2 separate regions of the Homo sapiens genome follow, and region 1 is linked to region 2. Evidence: fine-mapped expression QTL. A gene starts in region 2. The other region holds a variant in brackets. All regions are shown on one strand. Distances are between the middles of the regions.

What was found. PIP is the estimated chance that this variant, and not a neighbour inherited with it, causes the effect. A credible set is the group of variants that fine-mapping cannot tell apart.
Region 1: its variant is the best candidate, but not a certain one, in a credible set for the expression of CYP4B1 in esophagus mucosa (GTEx, PIP 0.66).

The regions. Positions count from the first base shown.
Region 1 is chr1:46,856,471-46,860,865 of GRCh38, forward strand. It overlaps the pseudogene CYP4Z2P. Among named protein-coding and RNA genes, the nearest start is that of CYP4B1, 60 kb to the left of the region's middle. The variant T/C (reference allele first, on the strand shown) is at 1,967.
Region 2 is chr1:46,796,500-46,800,894 of GRCh38, forward strand. CYP4B1 (cytochrome P450 family 4 subfamily B member 1) reads left to right here and starts at 2,547. Exons shown (of 12, transcript NM_001099772.2): 1 at 2,547-2,762. The coding sequence starts at 2,583.

The DNA of each region.
Region 1 (4,395 bases), 60 kb after region 2:
ACACTTTTCCTGAAGTAGCTCAGCCTTACTGAGCTTATTAAGACCACAATTTCTAAACCTTTTCTATGGGATTAAAAAGTAGAGCCACCCTCTACTCTCTGCAAGTCTTTCTGCAGCCACCCCCTCATTGCCTTTTAAAACTGGGAATTTCTCTTCTTGTTTAATTTGGCAGCCCAATCCTACCTTCTTTTTTAATTTCATAAATTCATTAAAATCTCTCTCTCTCTTTTTGTTTGTTAAATACTTTCCTTCCATTCTTTTCACTTTTATGGGATTATTTCTTTTTGCATTTCAGTGTATGTGTATAAGTAGGATCTTAGGAGGGACAAGTGGCAACAGAATCACCCAAGTGGCTTTCTTGAGTTGGAACTTAGAATTTACCTAGACTTATGATTTATCTTTTATAAGTAGATTGGTTTGTAGATAGCTAAGTATGGAAATATAAAAACTAGGGGACTCTGGCAGATGAAGATTGACAAAGGCAATAGCTGAGACCATGGAAGCAAGGTTGTTGAGAAGGAAATAGCTGATATTCTAGGACTTGGATACTGTCTGGGTAAGGAAGATGGTGGAGGTGTGAGGATGACTTCTATCTTTCTCACTTAAAATTACTCACAGACAGTGGTGCCATTCATTAATGTAGCAATCCAGGAGGAGGAATAGGTTTAGGGGAAGGAGGTAGATGACATGCTTTCTTTTGGACATTTTGCACATCATAGTACGCTCAGAACAAAGCAAAGTGCCTAGAGCAGATGTTTACTAGGCAATTGTTGGGCCAACAAATGAAGAGAAGGGCACACATAATGTAGTAGGTCTTTTGCCAAGAGTGAATGGGGCCATGGCACAGGCACAGGTAGAGAGTGATGAAAATGTGTAAGTGATATTGTGAGGTGTGGGAGAGAAAGCAGGCATCATAAACATGTTTCTTTTTAGAAATAAACAGGATTTTTGGGTAATACAGGGGAAGAGGTGGGTCTGGCGGATATGAGGCATCCATTTGCACATGCTTTGTTGTGCTATAGCTGTATTCAAGGGCCCATTAGCAGGGCAGAGAAAGCGTATAGAGGAATTTAATGCTGGTTGAATTACTGATGAGTGACAGTAGAGAAAGGGAAAATATTCAAGGAAGTTGATGGCATTGCCAAAGGGGAAGTTGGAGTGATGAATCCAGGCATCCAAGCCTGGGGTGAAGAAAGTGAAGTTGTGGAGTGCCTGTGTGTATGAGAGGGGCAGGAAGGAAAGCAGGGTAACAGGAAATGAGACAGATGAGCACGTGAGGTCCAGTGAAGGCCTGAAAGCTCTGTGTGTGGCAAGAAGGTGTGGCGGAAAGGAATGTAAAGTGAGGTGAAGGCAACTCTGCGTGTGCACTTCCTGTCCCTTCATTGTAGCTTGAGGGAGATTAAGGTGCAGCCCTTGAAGGCACTTGGAGGAAAGGGCAGAGACTGCAGGAGACCAGAGATGACGTATAAGTCGCCTAAAACTGAGTCAGCCGGGTGGAGCCAGCTCTTCCACCAACATCCATGCAGATCTCAACAGAATTGTCTGAAGCCCAGAAAGTTACCCGCAGCAGCCGCAAAAGCCACAAGATCAGGAAAGTGAAAGGAACATGAAACAGAAAGGACCTGAATGGGAAAAATTAGAAGGCATGCTGATTCTCACATTTTCAACATGTAGCTTTTGTATGGGTCGGGGGATTTTAAGACTCTGGATTACAGGGCTTAGGTGATCTAGAATGGAAGCAGAGAAAATAATTTTCTTGTGTTGGAAGGCAGCAATAAATCATCATTTTATTGATATTGAAAAAAACCAGAGATTATTGACAGGATTTAAGTATTATTGAAATGCAAGGTTAAGGGAAAAGGTAGTAAAAGTTGACTCTGAGCTGTCTTGTTTGAACAACTAGGTGCGTGGAACATTATGTGCATAGATGCAATATTATGTAGGTAATAAATATTACAATAAATAC[T/C]ATGTGAAAAATAACACTGAATTAAAAAGAGGAAACTTCTTTAGATACTAGATGATTGCAAAGATCCCCATGATAGCAAAGATCTTTCTCTGGAGAGATCCCAGAGAAAGCTTAAGTTGTTGCTGTAGTGTAGTAGTTAAGAGCACACTCTAGAGTCCCATTTCTTGGGTTCAAGTCCTAGTTCTACCATTTACCAGAGATGAAGTTTTACCTTTTTGTCCCTGTTTGCTAAAATGTGCATAACACTAGTATTTCCACAGCAGAACTGGGGGGCAGGAGGATGGGTGGATAAAATGAGTTAACACATGCAAAACATATGGAACAATTCTCAGCTCCTAGTAAGTGCTAAATAATTTTTTCCTTTTGTTGTTACAATAGTAAAGTTGATTTTGTAGGAAACAAATATTTAATTGCTATTGGGCAACTATGGTAGCACAGTAGCAATTAAATATTGCTACATTTAATTAGACTACTACAAATGCCCAATCAAATCCAGTATTTGAAAGATGGTTAAATTGGAGGAAGGTGTAGAAACACACCTCAACATAGGTCAAAGATAAATTCTGGCTCATTCCTTTATATCTCTAATGTCATCTTTCAATCCATCTTGCATCCCACCAATGTATTAATCTTTCTAAAAAATAACTATAATCGTGCTACCCAGCTTAGATGTCTTAAATCTGCTGCTTGATTGAGAAAGGCTGAACACAAAGGTTGGCCTTCAGAAAACTATGATCTGGCTACATCATGGCTCCAGGTATAGTCCCACAACTTCCCTCTGTGAATCCTGGAGTCTGGTGGATTACAGCAATTGCTCCAGTGACATGCCCTGCTGGTGTGCCTGAGGGAAGGGAGAAGGCAGGCTGCCTGCTGCTTTGTGTCTGCTCTTCTCTCTGCCAACAATGCGCCTCTCTCATCTTTGCTGATATAAATCTAGTCCTTTAAGGTTCAGCATTAAAGCCATGATGCTTCATGAAGGCCTCCTCACCCACTCCTCAGTCCATATGGCAGGATTCTGTACCTTTGCACCTGCATAATCCTGTGCCTGTTTAGATAGTCCTGAGAGCTCTCTCCTCTTTCTCCCTCTCTGGGAAATAAGAATGGCCCTAGGTTCCACAGAGTCTAAGGATAAATAACTGTTAAAGACATGAGTGTGTTAAGACATTTCAATCCAAACATAGCTGCATTGTTAAAAAAAAAAAAAGTTGTTTTAAGACCTGCAGGTAAGGAGCGTCCATCTGGAAAGGTAATGGGTTTGTCGAGTAACCGGGATATGTTTACTACCGGTGCGTAGAGGCGGAGGCATTCCTTGATGCACATTGTGGCGTAAGGCATCTGGCTCAGGTGTTCCCTGGGTACAAGCACAGGAGGAAAGGAAAAGGAGGAGTAGTCACTTTGGCATTGCACTGAAAGCCCAGCTTTTCCCCATTTTTGTAACTGAGAATGATTTTGTTCTTTACCCAAAGGAGGACTTCAGATGTATCAAGTATGTCTTAGGAAAAGCTAAATTTTAACATGAACCACTTTTCACATGTAACTGTAAGCTTTTTTTTCGCCGAAGATATAGGGCTCTTATCCTGAGACATACCTATTCCAGGGCTCCTGTGACCAATATCACACATCTGTGAAAATTTGGATAGACATGTGGGCTGTATTTATATCTAGAGTGCTTCTTTTATGAAAATATAAGTATTTCTGATAGTACTGTAGTAGGAATACAGACTACCTTCTTCACTAAGAGAGTTGAAAAAACTCAGGGAACTTTAAAAAATATTCTTAAAAGCATCAATGAGATAACTCATTTGTTAGGAGACCATAAAGAGGATTGGAGGATTGGAGATCACAGAAGTGGGCAGATAATGGCTGATGCTTCTGTTGCGAACCAGAAGTGGAGCAGTGGGCAAGGAGACATGAGTCAGAATCAAGGGCTCAACACATGTGGGGACTGTGGGAAGCCACCTTCAGCTCTGGGCTGGGCCTGCAAAGGAATGCACCTGGAAACAGGTATAGGAAAGGCAAAATAAATGCAAAGAAGTAGAGGAAAAAATAGTTTAGGGAAGAGTAGGAATCAATGAGATAGGCAAAAGCAAAAAGTCAACAAGGTCAGCAATGCTAGATATTGGTTCATTGAAAAGATGAATAAAATTGGTCATTTTTGGGTGAGAATGTTAGAGAAAAAAGACACAACTATCCAAATTGAACAAAAAGGTAACAAGTTTTGTTTCTAGTGATGGTGGACTAAGTAATTCAGTTCATATCTCCTGCTATGACAACCAGAAAATTTGGACCACACACACACAAAAACACACATAGTGTACTTGAACACATCAGAAAGCTAGTAATATAATATAGAGATGTTGGTTCAGGAGAGAATGAAGATTGAAGATTCATGGATTTGATCCTGAGATTTAGAAATGCTTTTCTGCTGG
Region 2 (4,395 bases):
TCTTGCTAGCGGTCTATCAATTTTGTTGATCCTTTCAAAAAACCAGCTCCTCGATTCATTGATTTTTTTGAAGGGTTTTCTGTGTCTCTGTCTCCTTCAGTTCTGCTCTGATCTTAGTTATTTCTTGCCTTCTGCTAGCTTTTGAATGTGTTTGATCTTGCTTCTCTAGTTCTTTTAATTGTGATATTAGGGTGTCAATTTTAGATATTTCCTCCTTTCTCTTGTGGGCATTTAGTGCTATAAATTTCCTCCACACATTGCTTTAAATGCATCCCAGAGTCAAGACCCATCAGTGTGCTATATTCAGGAGACCCATCTCATGTGCAGAGACACACATAGGCTCAAAATAAAGGGATGGGGGAAGATCTACCAAGCAAATGGAAAACAAAAAAAGGCAGGGGTTGCAATCCTAGTCTCTGATAAAACAGACTTTAAACCAACAAAGATCAGAAGAGACAAAGAAGGCCATTACATAATGGTAAAGGGATCAATTCATTAAGAAGAGCTAAGTATCCTAAATATATATGCACCCAATACAGGAGCACCCACATTCATAAAACAAGTCCTTAGAGACCTACAAAGAGACTTAGACTTCCACACAATAATAATGGGAGACTTTAACACCCCACTGTCAACATTAGACAGATCAACAAGACAGAAAGTTAAACAAGGATATCCAGGAATTGAACTCAGCTCTGCACCAAGCGGACCTAATAGACATCTACAGAACTCTTCACCCCAAATCAACAGAATATACATTCTTCTCAGCACCACATCGCACTTATGCCAAAATTGACCACATAGTTGGAAGTAAAGCACTCCTCAGCAAATGTAAAAGAACAGAAATTATAACAAACTGTCTCTCAGACCACAGTGCAATCAAACTAGAACTCAGGATTAATGAACTCACTCAAAACCGCTCAACTACATGGAAACTGAACAACCTGCTCCTGAATGACTACTGGGTACATAATGAAATGAAGGCAGAAATAAAGATGTTGTTTGAAACCAATAAGAACAAAGATACAACATGACTTGCTTTTTAAATGGTGCACTCAATGTCTCGATCCTATAAAATGAAGCACAAATGTGAAATTTCAGGAAGTGTGACAGACCAATGGAGAAGACACTTTTGGAGTTCTTTCATTGTACTCTCTTCTTGCTTTCTCTGCCTATGGGTAAGATTGGACATTATGTCTCCCCAGCAGAGGAGGAGGCTTGGTCTCTTGTGCCAGAGGGGATAAGGCAGCCATGTTGATGGCTTATCATTCTCTGAATTAGAACCTGTGATCTGAGTTCTGAGATTTGAGATCCAAGTCCACCTGATTGCTGGTTTTTTTCCTGCCACCTCCCTGCCAGACTGTCCTTGCTCTTATCTTGCTGGGAGGCTGACTTCTGCAGACTGACTCCCCAGGCTCCTTGCCATTTCACTTCTGATTGGCTTGGCTGATTGGAGACACTAGTAGGAGATGGGAGATGGCAGATGAAAGAGTTTAGGACATTTTTGCTCTGTTCTTCCACTGTTCCAGCATCACTTCTCTCGCACTAGCTGTGTTCCCCATAAATACAACCCCCACCAAGCTACAGGATCATGATTTTCTTCCCTTCTTCCTTTAGTCCTGGGGTATTGATGCATTTCTTGTTGTTTCAAGTCTCTGCATGCCACATCATATCTTGTTTGATTTCTTTAATCTGCCTGCCTCTGCAAATAACATACCCTCCCCAGGCAAGGCAGTGGTCTGAGCCAAACTTGTTCTTCCACAGAAGCCTGGGCTGTGGCACTGGGAGCTGCCAATTTCTTGCTGTGCAACTTTGGATATTTCCCTACCTCTCTTGAGCTTAAGTGGCTCCATCCAGCCAGGAGGGATTGAATTTGATGACCTCTCATCACCCTGAAAGTTCTATGTTCCTAAGTGTCAAAATGGCACTATTGTTTTAGGGGTGGAGTTGGCCCCTTTCTGACCTGGTATTTCCCTTTTGGGGCTAGAACCTTGTCTCTGAAGGTGCCTCACAAAAAAGAACTCAAAGCATTGCGAGCCTAGCATAAATGCCAGCTCTCTTAAGGGTTCACATTGAAGGGGACACTGGAAGCTTTCTTGAGAGAAAGCATAGGCAAGCTGAGCCTCAGCTTCATTATCTGGGAAATGGGTATAAAATGTGAGTGCCTCTGACCTCCTTGCTGTTTGGGTTAAATGAGATAGTATGTAAAAAGTGCCTGAAACATTCACAGTGCTTGTATGAGAAGACAGTGGTTATTATGCTGATGATTACACCAAGAATTGCCATCTGTTTGTTCTAAGGAATCAAGGTGGGATACCCATTGCCTGTTTTTTTTGGAGTCCACTATTAGGTTTCTCTTTAGCTGAATTTTGGGAGAAGGCCACTAGGCTCTCTCCTCTGTTGTTTGCAGTTTTGGAGGTTGCTGTCTCCGCCTTATGGCACTCAGCCCAGCCTTGGCTGCTGCTGGCTGCAGGGAGTGGCTAGGGCTGGACGCTGACAAGATGCATGGGTCCAGAGTATAAAGGAACCCAGGAGCAGCTGAAGGCAGGTCAGATGAAGGCTAGGTGGCTGGAACTGCAACCATGGTGCCCAGCTTCCTCTCCCTGAGCTTCTCCTCCTTGGGCCTGTGGGCTTCTGGGCTGATCTTGGTCTTAGGCTTTCTCAAGCTCATCCACCTGCTGCTGCGGAGGCAGACGTTGGCTAAGGCTATGGACAAATTCCCAGGGCCTCCCACCCACTGGCTTTTTGGACATGCCCTCGAGGTATGTGGAGGTCGGGAGGGTGGGGGAGAAAGAAAACATCCTCCCTCCTTTCAGAGAATCAGGCCTAATTCCCAGGGGGCTGTGGAGGGAGACTTCAAACTTGGGCAGGGGGATGATGTCCTGGGATCCATGGCTTCCATTCAGCTTTCCCACCGGAATTTCTCCTTCACTCCAGCCTTTCAAGCTGACTTCAGAAGTGGGGGCAACTTCCAAGTCAGGGCTCAAGCATGGCACAGACACCTTCTCCTCATTCTGAGGCCCAAAGTTTGGACCAGGTTCTGCTAAAAGCTCAGCAATGACAGAAAGGCAATGGCAGAAATCCAAAACCTCTGGATAGTACATAGAAGTAGGCAATCCATTGAAAGCTCAATCAGCGTCCGTGTTGTTGTGTGTAGTGTAAAGATTTCCATTTGTAAGGCAGGAAATGAGAGTGAGCATGAAGATGAGTACCGCCACATGACAGACCTCACCGAGTGTCTAAGCGGTTGGTGTCCCCAAAGGCAGGGCTCTCCCGGCCATGCCTATGGGTGGCTCAGGAGCCGTGACACCTTCCCAGGTTCAGATCATGGTTCGTCTTCCTGTTACTCCAGGGTGGGAACCACCTTAGCCCCTGCTCTCAGGAAGATCTCTTAGTTTCCTACTGTATTGGGGATCTAGACCAGAGGTTTCTAATTAGACACAGGGCAGGGAATTGGAATCAACTGGGAGGAGCAAATTCCTGGACCTCCAGTTCCTGGAGATTCCAATTTGTCAGATTGGAACTAGGAGTTTACATTTATAAACCTGTCCAAGTGTTAGTGTTTTGATCTGCAGCCAGCTTGGGGAATCCAGGTAGAGATGCCAGAGACTTTTCTTTCTTTCCCTCTCTTTTTCCTTTCCTTTCCCTTTCCCTTTCTTTCTTTCTTTTTTTCTTCTTTCTTTCTCTTTCTTTCTTTCTCTTTCTTTCTTTCTTTCTCTTTCTCTCTTTCTTTCTTTCTTTCCTTCCTTCCTTCCTTCCTTCCTTCCTTCCTTCCTTCCTTCCTTCCTTCCTTCCTTCCTTCTTTCCTTCCTTCTCTTTCTCTCTCTCTCTTTCTTTCTTTCTTTTTTTGATGGGGAGTTTTGCTCTCTCTCCCAGGCTGGGGTGCAGTGGCGCAATTTTGGCTCACTGCAACCTCTGCCTCCCAGATTCAAGCAATTCTCGTGCCTCAGCCTCCCAAGTAGCTGGGACCACAGGCACGCGCCACCATGCCTAGCTAATTTTTGCATTTTTGTAGAGATGGGGTTTCACTATGTTGGGCAGGCTGGTCTCAAACTCCTGACCTCAAGTGATCCACCTGCCTCGGCCTCCCAAAGTGCTGGGATTATAGGTGTGAGCCACCGCGCCTGGCTGACATGCCAGAGATTGAGGCTCAGAGTGAGGCAAGTTCCTTCTCCTACCTTCTGAACTCACTTTCCTCATTCTCAGTCTGGATGGGGGCACTGCTTCTCTTCCTTGATTGACACTAGAAATGAGCTTGACCTCTAGGCTTATTCTTGCCCTGACAGATAACCCTGTAACATGCATCCTGAAGACATCCAGGAAAGGAAAGTGTGGGTCAGAGAGATGAATCAGACCCAGGCCTGGGGTTCAAAGAGCTTACGGTCTGAAGGGAAA